Linked DNA regions of Homo sapiens: all the other regions are linked to region 1. Evidence: fine-mapped expression QTL. A gene starts in region 1. Each other region holds a variant in brackets. All regions are shown on one strand. Distances are between the middles of the regions. Region 1 holds the start of CALCOCO2 (calcium binding and coiled-coil domain 2). Region 2 overlaps SNF8 (SNF8 subunit of ESCRT-II). Region 3 overlaps SNF8 (SNF8 subunit of ESCRT-II). Region 4 overlaps CALCOCO2 (calcium binding and coiled-coil domain 2).

What was found. PIP is the estimated chance that this variant, and not a neighbour inherited with it, causes the effect.
Region 2: its variant is fine-mapped to the expression of CALCOCO2 in cerebral cortex (GTEx, PIP above 0.99). The same link has a PIP of 0.9 or more in subcutaneous fat.
Region 3: its variant is fine-mapped to the expression of CALCOCO2 in whole blood (INTERVAL, PIP 0.96).
Region 4: its variant is fine-mapped to the expression of CALCOCO2 in whole blood (INTERVAL, PIP 0.92).

Annotation. Positions count from the first base shown.
Region 1 is chr17:48,829,016-48,833,371 of GRCh38, reverse strand. CALCOCO2 (calcium binding and coiled-coil domain 2) reads right to left here and starts at 2,337. Exons shown (of 13, transcript NM_005831.5): 1 at 2,294-2,337. RefSeq lists a silencer at 1,922-2,081 and an enhancer at 1,452-2,333.
Region 2 is chr17:48,929,995-48,933,994 of GRCh38, reverse strand. It overlaps SNF8 (SNF8 subunit of ESCRT-II), which reads left to right. Exons shown (of 8, transcript NM_007241.4): 6 at 649-790; 7 at 2,278-2,352; 8 at 3,383-4,000. The coding sequence ends at 3,520. Among named protein-coding and RNA genes, the nearest start is that of SNF8, 13 kb to the left of the region's middle. The variant G/A (reference allele first, on the strand shown) is at 1,544.
Region 3 is chr17:48,935,949-48,939,948 of GRCh38, reverse strand. SNF8 (SNF8 subunit of ESCRT-II) reads left to right here. Exons shown (of 8, transcript NM_007241.4): 4 at 2,825-2,929; 5 at 3,707-3,779. Among named protein-coding and RNA genes, the nearest start is that of SNF8, 6.9 kb to the left of the region's middle. The variant C/T (reference allele first, on the strand shown) is at 2,446.
Region 4 is chr17:48,855,862-48,859,861 of GRCh38, reverse strand. CALCOCO2 (calcium binding and coiled-coil domain 2) reads right to left here. Exons shown (of 13, transcript NM_005831.5): 10 at 3,675-3,770. Among named protein-coding and RNA genes, the nearest start is that of CALCOCO2, 27 kb to the right of the region's middle. The variant G/TG (reference allele first, on the strand shown) is at 2,044.

The DNA of each region.
Region 1 (4,356 bases):
TGTTGGCCAAGTTGGTCTCTAACTCCTGACCTCGTGATCCACCCACCTTGGCCTCCCAAAGTGCTGGGATTACAGGCGTGAGCCACTGTGCCCGGCCTTCTGCTTACTTTTCTTTCTAAACGATTAGCAATTAGCAAAAATGGATGAATTGATTTGAATCCCGTTTCTCCCTGGCTATGGCAGAAATGCTTACACATAACCAGCCTTAAAGAATACCAGCAGTGGATACTATGGGTGTGTGTAGATGGCCCTGAAACAGGTAGCAAAAGCAAAGACACAATCACTGGTCTTCAAATTATCGAGCCATTTGCTCTAGCCCAAAATTTCCAAGTTAATTCTAGACCCTTACCTAAAATATGAAAATGTTTCAGAGTGTCTTACAAAAATTTTACACCCCAGGAGGCCTTTATTACTACTCATTAACAATTGTTTGAATTTGCTGTCCAGCTTTTTCTAAACAGGCCCTCATCTCACATCCACACCACCATAGTGCTGGCGCCAGTTCTAGGGGAAGATGGAAAAAATAGTTCTGGGACATCAGGTGCGGGCAACTGGAAACTCTGAAAGGCTCAAAGCTGTGTACTAATCTCCATTTTACTGAGACCATCCACTTTTCCCTTGACAGGGGTGATTCTAACATGCCATGTCCCTGTGACATGGGCAGTGACAGTGTTTGAAGTGTGGTGGAAAGGGGACTAGGCTAACAGCCAAGGGAGCTGGGTTCCTATCTTAGTTCTGCCACTCTGAGAGCTTGGCCAAGTCACAGTACCCTTTTCTGGCCTGTTTCCTCATCAGCAAAATGCATGGCTAAGGCTAGAAAATCTTCAAGGACCTTGCCTGATATAATGATGATCCTAAGTGAAGGAAAAAAGAAGTGAAAGAGTTCATTTAACTCTCTTTTCATCTAAAAATAATTAAGGATACATGACATTCTATCAATACATACTGCCAAATTAAATTTTTGTTTGTTTGTTTTTTGAGACGGAGTCTCACTCTGTTGCCCAGGCTGGAGTGCAGTGGCGCCATCTCGGCTCACCGCACCCTCCGCTGTCTGGGTCCAAGCGATTCTCCTGCCTCAGCCTCCCAAGTAGCTGGGATTACAGGCGCCCGCCACCACGCTCCACTAATTTTTGTATTTTTAGTAAAGACAGCGTTTTGCTATGTTTGCCAAGCTGGTCTTGAACTCCTGACCTCAGGTGATTCTGCCCGCCTGGGCCTCCCAAAGTGCTGAGATTACAGGCGTGAGCCACCGCGCCTAGTCAGCCAAATTAAATTTTTAAAGAGCCACAGATGTACTATCTGACTCGAAAGACAATATGACCTGTTAGTGCCAGGTAACTCAGGATTATCGACTACCTTTTTCAAGGCCCTTTCCATTCCACAGCTGTCATGTCTGCCAAAGGATAGAGTTTCCAGGTCCCTTGAAAATACCTGGGAAACTGAGCCATCTGGATATTCCTTAATCATGTATTCTCCACAAGCTACAAAGACCTACCACATAAAGTCCTTTACTTGCAATGGTGTTTCCAATAATAGAATAAGTTATATTATCCATATTTTACTCAGCTCCAACCATGGTCACTTGTTGGCTTGCATGTGAAGCAAGAATCCAAGTGATAGAAAAGAGTTAACACGTCCAGTGGGGTTGAAATAATATACGAGTGGGAACATTAGCTCCCAAACTAAGCTGGGTCAGTGGTGGAGGGGCAATGGATTAACTGTAGAGGCAGGTCACGACACCGTCTTTCCTCCTGCCTAGAACGTCTTCTCCGACAGCTGCAGCATGCAAAAGGCAAGGCGCTTCAGGGATCAAACCTACTCGTAAAGGGGGACACTGAGGCCCAAAAAGAAAGTAACTTGCTCAGGGTGACGCAACAAGGCTCCACCTCCGCCTCGAAGCCAACGGCGATGACATCCAGGCGAGGGATTACGGAACCACCACAGCCTGGGCCCGCGGGAGGGGACGGGACGCCACGACCCGTGGGGCGGCAGCCGCCGCCTCAAGACCCTCGCCGCCGCCAGGGGTGTCACTTCTTCCCGAGGAGCCTCCCACCCTGCCACACAGCACTGCAGCGCTGCCCTCCGCAAGACAAAACTGCCCCGCAACCCTCCCGGGCCGCGGGAGGGGCTCCAGGGCCTTCAGAACACCACTCCCACTATCACCCCAGAGGGTGAACTGCGGTGAGAACCGAAACTTGCCACACCTCTACCCCCGTGGCCCCTTCTCAGGACTGCAAGTCTGAATGTGGGCACCCCGAGGGCCTAACTGCCCCTTTCCACTTGAGGCACTCACCAGGGACAGCAACCAGCAGCGGCGCGACAGCAACAGGGCAGAGTGGGACGGGGGCGGGGCTAAGCACCCAAGGGAGAGCCCGTCCCGCCTGCCCCGCCCACACGTCACAACGGTCAGCAAGCCCCGCCCCCGCGCGGCGCTTGCTGGGACTTGTAGTGTTCAGGTGACCGGGCCCCAGGAGCGGTCTTCTGCCTTTGATGGCTCTCCTAAGTCCTGAGCAGCAATCTCACCGAAATAAACCTACTTCATCCCCTGGAAGAAGCTGTTTACTTTTCTTTTTTTTCTTTTATACCTTTATTTCTTTTTTCTTTTTCTGTCGTCCAGGCTAGAGTGCCATGGTGCGAACACGGCTTACTGCAGCCCCGACCTCCCGGGCTCAGGTGATCCTCCCACTTCAGCCTCCTGAGTAGCTGGGACAACCACGGTGCCCATACGGCGCCCGCCACCACGCCAGGCTAATTTTTGTATTTTTAGTAGAGATGGGGTTTTGCCATGTTGCCTAGGCTGGTCTTGAACTCCTGGGCTCAAGAGGTCCAGCTGCCTCGGCCTCCCAAAGTGTTGGGATTACAGACCTGAGTCATCGCGCCTGGGCTACATCTTTATGTCTTTCTTCCCTGAATGAGAAAGCTTTATACATTTGAAGGGCCATTAAGAGGTCATCTTCATTTTTCTCCTGGGTCCACTTAACACTACTTCACGAAGAGTCTTTATTTTTTTTGAGACAAGGTCTCACTCTGTTGCCCAGGCTGGTGTGCAGCGGGGCGATCTCGGCTCAGTGCAACCTCTGCCTCCTGAGTTCAAGCTATTCTCGTGCCTCAGCCTCCCCAGTAGCTGGGATTACAGGCACCCGCCACCATGCCCGGCTCATTTTTTTGTATTTTTAGTAGAGACGGGGTTTCACCATGTTGGCCAGGCTGGCCTTGAACTCCGTCTCAAAAAGAAAAAAGAGAATAAACTCATGGCCAGGCACAGTAGCTCACGCCTGTAATCCCAACATTTTGGGTGGCCGAGGTGGGAGATCTCTTGAGCCCAGAAATTTCAGATCATCCTGGACAAGATAGGGAGACCCTGTCTCCACAAAAAATAAAAAAATTAGCCGGGTGTGGCGGTGGGCCCCTGTAGTCCCAGCTACTCAGGAGGCTGAGGTGGTAGGATCACTTGAGCCTGGGAGGTGGAGGCTGCCATAAGCCATGATCACACCACTGCACTCCAGTCTGGGAGACAGAGCGAGACCCTGTCTCAAAAAAAAAAAAAAAAAAAAAAAAAAAGAATAAACTCAGTAAGAAAAGAATTCTGCTAAGTCAATTTAAAGAAAATCCCCCATCCTTAATATCTAATAACCCTGGCCTGCCTTCAACAAGAGTCCTGTTAAGTTGGTTTAACAAGAATCTCCTTTTAGTAATTTTCCATGCAGTGACCCCTCACTCTGCTTGTTGGCTATAAATCCCACTTGTCATTATTGTATTCAGAGTGCAGCATAATCTCCCCTTTGGTCCTGAATAAATTCTTCCTTGCCATTTTAACAAGTTTCAGAATATTTTTTTCTTTAACATCCAGAAGATGTTAAATGCTGTATATGCTGTCTATGAAAGATTAAATTTGGAAGTGCCCCTTCTTCCACTGTTTAAATGTGGAAAGAAATTTTTCTGTGCCATCTCAGGCAGGGGAATGAGCATTCCTTTTTTTTTTTTTTTTTTTGTCGAGACAGAGTCTTGCCCTGTCGCCTAGGCTGGAGTGCAGTGGCATGATCTGGGCTCACTGCAACCTCCACCTCCCGGGTTCAAATGATTCTCCTGCCTCAGCCTCCTGAGTAGCTGGGACTACAGGCGCCCGCCACCACGCCCGGCTAATTTTTGTATTTTCAGTAAAGACGGGGTTTCACCATATTGGCCAGGCTGGTCTTGAATTCCTGACCTTGTGATCCACCAGCCTCAGCCTTCCAAAGTGCTGGGATTACAGGCATGAGCCACCACACCCAGCGGGAATGAGCATTCCTAATCTGCTTCCTCACAAGACTGGTGGCATTCAACTGAGATGAACGGATGGTGGGAAATGATGAGTAA
Region 2 (4,000 bases), 100 kb before region 1:
CCCCTTTAAAATAGATAAGCATTCTCTAGTTTGCCACAGGTGACACTACCCCCATTGCCTCTTCAGCTCACTCATTCACATTTCCTGATGGGCATCTGCAGGTGTATCTTTGACCGCTGTCTGGATGTTGGAATGAGTGGTTCGCTGAGCAGACAGCCTGACTCCTGTGTATCTCCCATGATTGTCCAAGCATCACTTATTGCTCCTTGACCCTGTCTTTTTACTGACGTAGTTGAGTGTTGTGCAGCCTTTTATTTTAGAGGCAGGGTCTCGCTCTGTCACCCAGGCTGGAGTACAGTGGTGCACAATCACAGCTCACTGCAGCCTTGAACTCCTGGGCTCAAGTGATCCTCCTGCCTCAGCCTCCCAAGGATTATAGGCGATTGCCACCATGCCCTGCTAATTTTTTATTTTTAGTAAAGATAAGGTCTTGCTGTGTTGCCCAGGCTGGTCTCTAACCCCTGGGCTCAAGCAGTCTTCTCAATGTGGGCATCCCAAAAGTGTTGCGATTATGGGTATGAGCCATTGCGCCTGGCAGTTGTGCAGTCTTCTAAATTTTCTGTCAGTATCCTGCCCAGGGCAGAGCTGAAACTGTGTTGTTAGGTCTGATTCTGCCAAGGGTCGTTAAGCAACTCTTCCTTACCTCAGAGATGACCTGATCAGAGCCATCAAGAAACTAAAGGCACTTGGCACTGGCTTCGGCATCATCCCTGTGGGCGGCACTTACCTCATTCAGTCTGTTCCAGCTGAGCTCAATATGGATCACACCGTGGTGCTGCAGCTGGCAGAGGTACTGGTGCACCTTCGAGTGTGTGTGTGTGCAAGGGACAGTCTGTGAGGCAAGTCTGGAGCAGTTCTCAGCTCGTGCTCCCCATTATGCAGGTCTTTTGCTGAGACTATCCAGTGGATGAACTACTCAGGCCTGTGCTTGTTCAGCAGACATTTATTGAGCAGCTACAGTGCAAAGCACTGGGCCAGGCTGTGGGGCATATAAAGATGATAAAATTCCTGCTCTCAAGGAGCTTACAGTCTAGTCAGGTAGACAGACATGCAGACAACTAACTAGATTTCTTTGGGTAGCCAGACTCTTTGATGTCTTTTGAAACTACTTTATGGATTCTTCAAAAACAGATTTTAAAAAATCTTGTTTGCCATGCCCCCATCCCTCATCATGCCTTAAGCATATGCCATCTTCCCCCAAATCCCCATCAGGTATTTAGATGTGTTCAGTTTTATTATTTTTGAGATGGAGTTTCACTCGTTGCCTAGGCCAGAGTGCAATGGCGTGATCTCAGCTCACTACAATGTCAGCCTCCCGGGTTCAAGTGATTCTCCTGCCTCAGCCTCCCGAGTAGCTGGGATTACAGGTGTGTGCCACCACGCCCAGCTAATTTTGTATTTTTAGTAGAGATGGGGTTTCTCCATGTTGGCCAGGCCTGAGTTTGGTCTCGAACTCCCGACCTCAGGTGATCCACCCACCTTAGCCTCTCTAAGTGCTGGGATTACAGGGGTGAGCCACCGCACCCGGCCCAGTTTCCTTTAT[G/A]ACGTAAAACAGAACTAAATAAGGGAGGGGCTTTTCTGTATTGGAGGATGAGTAGAATGAGGCAGGGCAAGGGCTGAATATTTAAATAATGGAGGTTATTAGCAGTTTATGATTATCATCATTTCTTCCCATCAATTAATTGTCCAGAATCTTCCCTTGTCATGCTCTAGAGTGCTTTGCAGAAGTCTAACTCAGTATGTTAGTACAAGGGACCCCACTTTTTTGTTTTTTGAGATGGAGTCTCGCTCTGTCACCCAGGCTGGTGTGCAGTGGTGCAATCTCCGGCTCACTGCAGCCTCCATCTCCCAGGTTCCAGTGATTCTTCTGCCTCAGCCTCCCGAGTAGCTGGGATTACAGGCGTGTGCCACCATGCCTGGCTAATTTTTGTATTTTTAGTAGAGATGGGGTTTCACCATGTTGGCCAGGCTGGTCTCGAACTCCTGACGTCAGGTGATCCACCCACCTCGGCCTCCCAAAAAGTGCTAGGATTACAGGCATGAGCTGCCGTGCCTGGCCGGTACCCCAGTTTTAGGATTGAACCCACCAACCTACCTCTGTCATGCTGAAAGTCACTTCTCTCTCTCCCCGCTGGAACCTTTAAACATTTTCTGTGTTCTCTCATGCTTGACAGCTTTTCCTCCTGTCTGGGTAAGTCTCTTGTTCCTGGGCAGATCCTGGGTTCTAAGGGAAGGTGCACTCTTAACTGATTCAATCCCCATTCCTCCTTCCTTCAGAAGAATGGCTACGTGACTGTCAGTGAGATCAAAGCCAGTCTTAAATGGGAGACCGAGCGAGCGCGGCAAGTGCTGGTATGCAACTTTGGAACAGTCCAGAAAAGACAGGCAGGCCCCAGTTGGGAGGATGTGGGTTCCACAAATGCAGGAACTTCAGCATTGCTTTGCTGGCCTTCTGCCTTGAAGGCTACTGCTGCCATGCTAGAAGGAAGCCCAGCACTTCTCTGAAGATGGCACCAAAAAGGTAGAACTAGGAAGGCAGGTTCCTAACTCTGGCATGCACACAATACCAGGCTGCCCCTGCTACTTGGGGAACTGACACTCTCTCTCCTGAACATGCTGAGCCTGGAGTTGCTGGTCAGGAGATTAATGTAGTTTGTACTGGAAGTAACACTGTTAGTACAGTGAATTATTAACTACGTTAATTACATATCTAATTATCCACTAAGCATTATATTGCATAGTATATACTCTAGCTTTATATATACAAATTTCATCGTACTGAAGAATGAATGATGTGAAGAGGGAGCAATGTAAGAACTCCGGCTTCAGTACCTTTTTTCCTTATCCAAACAATTCAACTGTCTAAACCTTTCATCTGTAAAATGGGGATAACATAATTATTTACCTAATGATATTGGACAGAAACCACCCATTTTGAGCATATTATTTCCAGCTCTAGGAACTGAGTCTATTCTTGCATAAGTATGGTCAATCATGTTTGCTACCCGGAATAACTTAATTCAAAGGTAGCTAAACAGTGATCTCTGTTTAACAGTTTCTGGGAAAATGGAGGCAGTGATTTGCTGAAGGCCACACAGCAAATATTTCTGTAGCTATGTTCTTTCCACTATATTCCACTATGCTAGGCTTTACCCCTCTTCCCCAGCAGCACAAGTTAAATGACTTCGTAGCATTTTTCAAATTCAGGCAAAGGCCAAGGCCAAACAGCTCGTTTAGTTGGTTGTGTAAAGGTTTGAAGGCACTTAGTAGATTTAGTTTGAAAACCTCACTGAAGCCAAAATAGGTGTGGGGGTTGCTTACCTACCCTTTGTCTATGGAACCTCCCTGTTCTCAAACTGCTCTTCTTCCCTTTTCCCTCCAGGAACACCTGCTGAAGGAAGGGTTGGCGTGGCTGGACTTACAGGCCCCAGGGGAGGCCCACTACTGGCTGCCAGCTCTCTTCACTGACCTCTACTCCCAGGAGATTACAGCTGAGGAGGCCAGAGAAGCCCTCCCCTGACTGCATGTGGAAGGGCACACAGCAGCAGGCAGGGAGGAGGCGGAGGTGGCAAATAAACCTGGGCAATTTTGTTTATACAAAAAATAGAAAAAAAGTTCCAAGTTTTTCTTTCTTCCCTCATTCTTTTATTTTTGAAAAGTGCCTTCACGTTGCATTTTTATTGGAGGAAAACCTCGCTCGTTCAGTAAGCATAATCTGATTAACACAGAGAACGGCAAGCACATATAAAATGATTTTTGTAGGTCATCTGCAAGTTCATGGAAGAGCTGGGCCTAGAATGTGGGTTGTTTCCTGGCCTGTCTAGTCTTTGTAGCTGTGAGACATAGATTACAGCCTATGCTAATTCAAACCTTTTAAATAAAATGTTCCTTATCTCAAACTAGCTGGTCCTAATGGACCAGTAAATAATATTCACTTTCAGTCTCTTCTGGCTTCCTCTGTAGAGGCTCTAGGTTATGACAGAGTTAGCTGTGAGTATGA
Region 3 (4,000 bases), 110 kb before region 1:
CCTGCACCACCAAATCTGGCTAATTTTTGTATTTTTTGTAGAGAGGAGGTTTCACCATGTTGCCCAGTTTGGTCTTCAACTCTTGGGATCAAGTGATCGGCCTTTCTTGGCCTTCCAGAGTGCTGGGATTATAGATGTGAGCCACTGCACTGAGCCCTTCCTCATACTTATAAACTTTAAAAAAAATTATTCACCGGGCGCGGTGGCTCACGCCTGTAATCCCAGCACTTTGTGAGGCTGAGGCGGGCAGATCATAAGGTCAGGAGATGAGGCCATCCTGGCTAACACGGTGAAACCCTGTCTCTACTAAAAATACAAAAAATTAGCCAGGTATGGTGGCACATGCCTGTAATCCCAGCTACTCGGGAGGCTGAAGCAGGAAAATCACTTGAACCCGGGAGGTGAAGGTTGCAGTGAGCCAAGGTCGCGCCCCTGCACAACAGCCCAGGCAACAGAGCGAGACTCCATCCCCCCAAAAAAAAAAAAAAAAGAAATTACTAATTTATTATTTTTTAGCATTGAGGTTTCTGTCACCTAGGCTGGAGTGCATTGGTGCAATCAGCCCACTGCAGCCTTCAACTCCAGGGCTCAAGTTACTTTCCTGCCTCAACCTCCCAAGTGGAGCTGGGACTAGAGGCATGAGTCACCGTGCCTGGCCCCAGTGTTTTTTTTTTTTTTTTTCTTGAGACAGAGTCTCACTCTGTTGCCCATGCTGGAGTACTGTGGTGTGACACTCTTGGCTCACTGCAACCTCCTTCTCCTGGGTTCAAGTGATTCTCCTGCCTCAGCCTCCTGAGTAGCTAGCTGGGACTATAGGCATGTGCCACCATGCCCGGCTAATTTTTTGTATTTTTAGTAGAGACGGAGTTTCACCATCTTGGCCGGGTTGGTCTTGAACTCCTGACCTCGTGATCCACCCGCCTCGGCCTCCCAAAGTACTGGGATTACAGGTGTGAGCTACCGCGCCCGGCTACAGATGACTGATTTTATCTCAAACAATGAATAACAATCATAAACGATATTTATTTGTGTGCCAGGCATTGCACTATATAATTTACTGCTTTTTTTTTTTTTTGAGACGGAGTCTCGCTCTTGTTGCCCATGCTGGAGTGCAATGGCGCGATCCTGGTTAACTGCAACCTCCGCCTCCTGGGTTCAAGTGATTCTCCTGCCTCAGCCTCCTGAGTAGCTAGCTGGGACTATAGGCATGTGCCACCATGCCCGGCTAATTTTTTGTATGATTAGTAGAGACAGGGTTTCAGCATGTTAGCCAGGATGGTCTTGATCTCCTGACCTCGTGATCTGCCCCTCTCAACCTCCCAAAGTGCTGGGATTACAGGCGTGAGCCACTGCTCCTGGCGTGGCCCCAACTTTGTAAACATATATGGGATTATAATATAATTACTACTGCTCTATAACCTACATTTTTGTTTTCTTTTTTTTTTTTTTTTTGAGATGGAGTTTTGCTCTTGATTCCCAGGCTGGAGTGCAATGGCGTGATCTTGGGTCACTGCAACCTTCGCCACCCAGGTTCAAGCGATTCTCCTGCCTCAGCCTCCCAAGTAGTTGGGATTACAGGTGCCCACCACCATGCCTGGCCAATTTTGTATTTTTAGTAGAGACGGGGTGTCTCCATGTTGGTCAGGCTGTTCTCGAACTCCTGACCTCAGGTGATCCGCCTGCCTCTGCCTCCCAAAGTGCTGGGATTACAGGCGTGAGCCACTGCGCCCAACCTGCATTTTTCACTGAATAGAATATTGTCGTCAGTGGATTGTTTATTTATTTATTTTTTATTTCTACACTCCTGGTAACTCACAGAACATTCAGTGGATTTTTGAATGCTGAGTCTGCATATTCTTTCTCTTAGTCTTGTCTAGACCATATTTCCCATTATATTTCACTGCATGCTTTGTGAATGGAAACTCGTTTTTTCAGTATCCTGAGCCAGAATTAGCCAAATAGAAATGACTTTTGTTTTATTTTTTAAATTTTTATTTATTTATTTTTATTTATTTATTTTTTTTGAAACGGAGTCTCACTCTGTTGCCAGGCTGGAGTGCAGTGGCGTAATCCCGGCTCACTGCAACCTCTGCCTCCCGGGTTCAAGCGATTCTCTTGCCTCAGTCTCCTGAGTAGCTGAGATTACAGGCACGCGCCACCACGCCCGGCTAATTTTTGTATTTTTAGTAGAGACAGGGTTTCACTGTATTGGCCAGGATGGTCTCTATCTCTTGACCTTGTGATCCACCAGCTTTGGCTTCCCAAAGTGCTGGAATTACAGGCGTGACCCACTGTCCCCGGCTGTATTTTTTTTTTTTGAGAGAGAGTTGTGCTCTTATTGCCCAGGCTGGAGTATGGTGGCGCGATCTTGGCTCACTGCAACTTCTGCCTCCTGGGTTCCAGCAATTCTCCTGCCTCAGCCTCCCAAGTAGCTGGGATTACAGG[C/T]GCACGCCACCACTCCTGGCTAATTTATTATTATTATTATTAGAGATGGGGTTTTGCCATGTTGGCCAGGCTGGTCTTGAACTCTTGGTCTCGAGCGATCCACCTAGCTCGATGTCCCAAAGTGTTGGAATTACAGGCGTGAGCCACTGCGCCCGGCCAGAAATGACTTTTAGATTGCCTGCCCTCTGGAGCCGTCTGACCCTGTTCTTCAGCAGGAGTTACCGTGAGTCCGATTGTTTCCTGAGTAGCAGATGGAGCAGAAGAACTTCATGCCATGCAGGGAAGACTTCCCATATGATAGATGTTTTAATGCAGGTTTGAAAGAAAAGAAGGGATGTAAATTAATCAATAACCGAGATTTTGTTTTTCTGTCTTGTAGCTGGAAAAGGATTTTGGTCTGAGATGCTGGGCGTGGGGGACTTCTATTACGAACTAGGTGTCCAAATTATCGAAGTGTGCCTGGCGCTGAAGCATCGGAATGGAGGTGAGGGTGGCTAGGTCCTGTGAACTGGACTCTGGACTTCTCTGAGAGGGAGAAAACCGTAAAAGATTATCGTTTCCATCCTGCAGTCTACAGGCCTCTAAGGACTTGAGAGACATCTTAGCTGTTTCATGCAGTTGAATCCATGGCAAGTCTCCATGGCCAAGGGTAAATAGAATTACCTGAACGATTGTCTCTGTTCTCCAAAGATCTTTGGCCAGGAAGGTCTAGTCCCTAGTCAGTACAGAAAATAGTAGAGAGGTAGGAAGTAGGCCTTTTCCCCTGATGTCTGATGTGTCTGGAGTGATTTTCTCATTAGTAACTATAGTCCTGCACTGTCTCTCCGACGTATGGGAATGCCAACTGAGTCTGTGTTCCCTAAAATGTGACCTTAAAATTTGTCATCTGGTGATGCCATCTTTCTTAGTAAGCACGTTAAATGGTGTGGATTGAAGTTACAGAAAGAAAACTTAAAACCATTTACAAATCATCATCAACTATAAATAGACACGGCCTTGATGTCAAGAGGACATTTATAGTTTTTCAAAGATGATACTGCTTTTGTTTTTAGATTTTCGTAGCTCTCTGTTGACAGGCCTAGCAAGGTCTCAGAATCCATTTCTCATATTATGGTCAGTTATTTCATAAGGAGAGTGTTAAAAAAAAATTAGGAACTAGAATGTTATTTGCTACTTGTAGGCCACTGGAATTGTAATGACTGTCAACTTATTTAAAGTGGGTAATCTCTTTTTCTGATTTCTGTTCCCTGTCTCCAAACAGGTCTGATAACTTTGGAGGAACTACATCAACAGGTGTTGAAGGGAAGGGGCAAGTTCGCCCAGGATGTCAGTCAGTAGGTCTTGTCTTCCAATCCCTTGGAGTACAGAAAGAGGTCTTTAAAATTCAGATGGAACTCTTTTCTCCCTATTCCTCATGTCTAGGCTAGCTTAGAAATCTGTATGATCTCCATATCATACAGGAAAAAAAAAAACAAAAAACAAACAAAAAATAAGAGATAGGGTCTCACTTTTGCCCGGGCTGGAGTACAGTGGCATGATCACAGCTTACTGCTAC
Region 4 (4,000 bases), 27 kb before region 1:
TGGCCTCCCAAAGTGTCGAGATTACAGGTGTGAGCCACTGTGCCCAGCCTATACCTGAATTTAAATATATTTACTACATTTTGTTTATATTAATACAAAAAAGTTTTAAATCTCTAAATACATGCCAACTACAGGGAGGAACAAATATGTAGATATATGAAAGTGGCAGGAGCTATATTAACACTGCAACTATTCTGATAGGTATATTAACGTTGAAACTATTGTATATTATTATTGTTGTTGTTAAATTTGTTTTTTTTAGAGACAGGGTCTTGCTTGGTCACCCAGGCTGGAGTGCGGGGTGAGATCATAGCTTACTGCAGCCTTGAACTCATGGGCTCAAGCAACCCTCCCACCTCAGCCTCCTTAGTAGCTGGGACTACAGGCACACGACACCGTGCCTGGCTGATTTTTAAATTTTTTGTAGAGATGAAAGGCTCTTGCTTTGTTGCCCAGGCTGGTTTCAAACTCCTGGCTTCAAGTGACCTTCCTGCCTTGGCCTCCCAGTGTTGTATATTATTGAGAGCAGAATATTTTTTCAGTTTCTTTCCTAGAATAATTTCTTACACAATGCAAATATTCACCTAAAATAATTTTTCCTTCTTCAGGTCTTATCCCATTCAAATGGATATATCAACACAGAGAATGAGTAAGAAGACAGGGTGGGAGGGAGGTAATGAAAAAGAGAAAAAAATTACTAAAAGTGGCACAGACAGCATTTCAAGTTCTTAGGAAAAAGAAAATAAGCAAAATTCCCTTATCATCTTAAGAGGGCTTTACTACAGTTCTTTTTTTTTTTTTTTTTTTTTTTTTTTTGAGACAGAGTCTTGCTCTGTCGCCCAGGCTGGAGTGTAGTGGTGCGATCTCAGCTCACTGCAACCTTCCACTTCCCGGGTTCAAGCGATTCTCCTGCCTCAGCCTCCTGAGTAGCTGGGATTACAGGCATGCACCACCACACCTGGCTACTTTTTTGTATTTTTAGTAGAGATGAGGTTTCACCAGGCTGGTCTTGAACTCCTGACCTCGTGATCCACCCGCCTCGGCCTCCCAAAGTGCTGGGATTACAGGCGTGAGCCACAGCACCCGGCCTACAGTTCTTAACAAAGCTTCCAAATACCAAATCTTTCCCTTTGTTTTGCAAACTGTGTGTGCACCTGCCCCCCCCCACAATCAAACTAACTCAGGAAAACAGGGATTTCAAACTCAAGGTATAAATTAAGAGAATGGGAATAGGCCGGACACAGTGGCTTATGCCTGTAATCCCATCACTTTGGGAGGCTGAGGTGGGCGGATTGCTTGAGCCCAGGAGTTCAACACCAGCTTGGGCAACATGGTGAAACCCCCTCTCTACTAAAAACACAAAAATTAGCTGGGTGTGGTGGTGCGCACCTGCAATCCTAGCTACTCAGGAGGCTGAAGCACAAGAATCACTTGAATCTGGGAGGTGGAGGTTGCAGTGAGCCAAGATGGTGCCACTGCACTCCAGCCTGGATAACAGAGCAAGACTCTAAAAAACAAACAAACAAACAAAACAAAAGCAAAACAAAACAAAAAAGAGAGAATGGGAATAACAAGACTAGAAAGAGAACCCAAAAAGCCTTCTGCAATTATGAAACACATTGGCATAAATGATATAATCAAAAGTAGAAAGTGAGGGAGAATTAATGTTTTAGTAGGTATGAAGTTTTAATGTTGCAAGATGGAAAAGTTCTGGAGATCTGTTGCATAGCACTGTGATGCACTTAACTCTACTGAACTGTACACTTTTACATTATTAAGATGGTAAAATTCTATTCTATTCTATTCTATTCTATTTTCTATTCTATTCTATTCTATTCTATTCTATTCTATTCTATTCTATTCTATTCTATTCTATTCTATTCTATTGATGTAGTCTTGCTCTGTCAGCCAGGCTGGAGTGCAGTGGCACGATCTTGGCTCACTGCAAGCTCCACCTCCTGGGTTCACGCCATTTTCCTGCCTCAGCCTCCTGAGTAGCTGGGACTATAGGCGCCTGCCACCAAGCTCGCTAATTTTTTTTTT[G/TG]TATTTTTAGTAGAGACGGGGTTTCACTGTGTTAGCCAGGATGGTCTCGATCTCCTGACCTTGTGATCCACCTGCCTTGGCCTCCCAAAGTGCTAGGATTACAGGCGTGAGCCACCGCGCCCAGCCAAATTTTATGTGTTTTAACCGCAATTTTAAAAAGAAAAAAATAGTAAAAATGATCACTAGGAGGCATAGGCCAGAAGGATTATAGAGGGTAAAGATCAGGAGGTGGAGGTTGTAGTGAGTCACGATCATGCCACTGCACTCCAGGCTGGGCAACAGAGTGAGACTCCGTCTCAAAAAAAAAAAAAAAAAAAAAAAGGGCCGGGTGCAGTGGCTCACGCCTGTAATCCCAGCACTTTGGGAGGCCAAGGCGGGTGGATCACCTCAGGTCAGGAGTTCGAGACCAGCCTGACCAACATGGAGAAACCCCGTCTCTACTAAAAATACAAAACTAGCCAGGCGTGGTGGCAATTGCCTGTAATCCCAGCTACTCAGGAGGCTGAGGCAGGGGAATCGCTTGAACCCGGAAGGTGGAGGTTGCGGTGAGCTGAGATCGTGCCATCGCACTCCAGCCTAGGCAAGAAGAGTGAAACTCCGTCTCAAAAAAAAAAAAAAAAGGGTAAAGATGAAGAATTGATGGAAGTATAGATACAGGAGTAGCAGCCAGAATGCATGGACACCTATTATTTGATGCTGAGCAAGAACATGAGAATGGGCCGGGCGTGGTGGGTCATGTCTGTAATCCCAGCACTTTGGGAGGCCGAGGCAGGAGGATTGCTTGAGCCCAGGAGTTTGAGAGCAGCTTGGGCAACACAGCAAGACCTTGTCTCTACTAAAAATAAAAAAAAAATTAGCCGGGCATGGTGGCATATGCCTATAGTCCCAGCTACTTGGGAGGCTGTGGCAGGACGATCACTTGAGCCCAGGAGATCAAGGCTGCAGTGAGCCAAGCTTGTGCCACTGCACTCCAAGCCTGGGTGACAGAGTGAGACCTTGTCTCAAAAACAACAACAACAAAAAAAGAAAAAAAAAAAAAAGAAAAGAAAGAACATGAGAATGACCTTGACTTCAAGTACAACCACTTTATTTTTTGCCATATCATCTTCAATCAATAATAAATGTTGGTTGGATGAATGAATGAACCAATGAATGAATGAATGAATGAATGAATGAATGCACAGCATTTATTAGGGGCCTACCATGGGTCCAGCACTGGTACAGACCACCACTTCTGCTCCTGGTTTGGCAGCAGAGAAAAAGGAAAAAGTTGTGCTGAAGAAAAGGAGTTCCCCACTAGCATAAAGTTATGTAGGACGTTATTCCCCTATCCCCCAAGGCAACATATATTAGCTGTGAAGTTAAAAGCAAAAATAAGTTAGGTCTTCATCAGTGTGGCTTCTTTCAAGGTGACTATTGCCATGCCAAACAAATTTCAGTTGTAGAATAAAGACAGGGTTTTGTGGTAGATTAGGAAATTAGATTAAATTTACTCTTCGTTTAGGAACAACTGTTTCACCCACTGTCCCAGAAAGGGCCCTTAACTTTTTATTTTTTTCACTACATCTCTGGGCCACCCTGATCCTTCCCCTTAAAACCTTGGGGTTTTATACCCTCTTTCACACACTTACATCATTTTCTCCTTCCAATCTCTCTTTCTGTCTCTGCAGAGCATTACATATAATTTCGTTCTCACTCAGTCTTTTTGACAGGTCAAAGTTTTCATCCTGTCAACAATAAAAAAAATTAGGATTAGGATCACATATTGCAGTCTGGGTACAAGGTGAGAAATTGTAGAGAATCTGGCATTGCAAAGCGGGGAGACTGAGATGGAGGAGAACGCAACTGGGAGGAAGAAATGGTACTATGGGCAGGGTGCTAAATTAAAGTGACTTAAAAAGACACCTGAAGGCCTGAGCTGGCATCAAGATGCCAATTTTTTTTTTTTTTTTTTTGG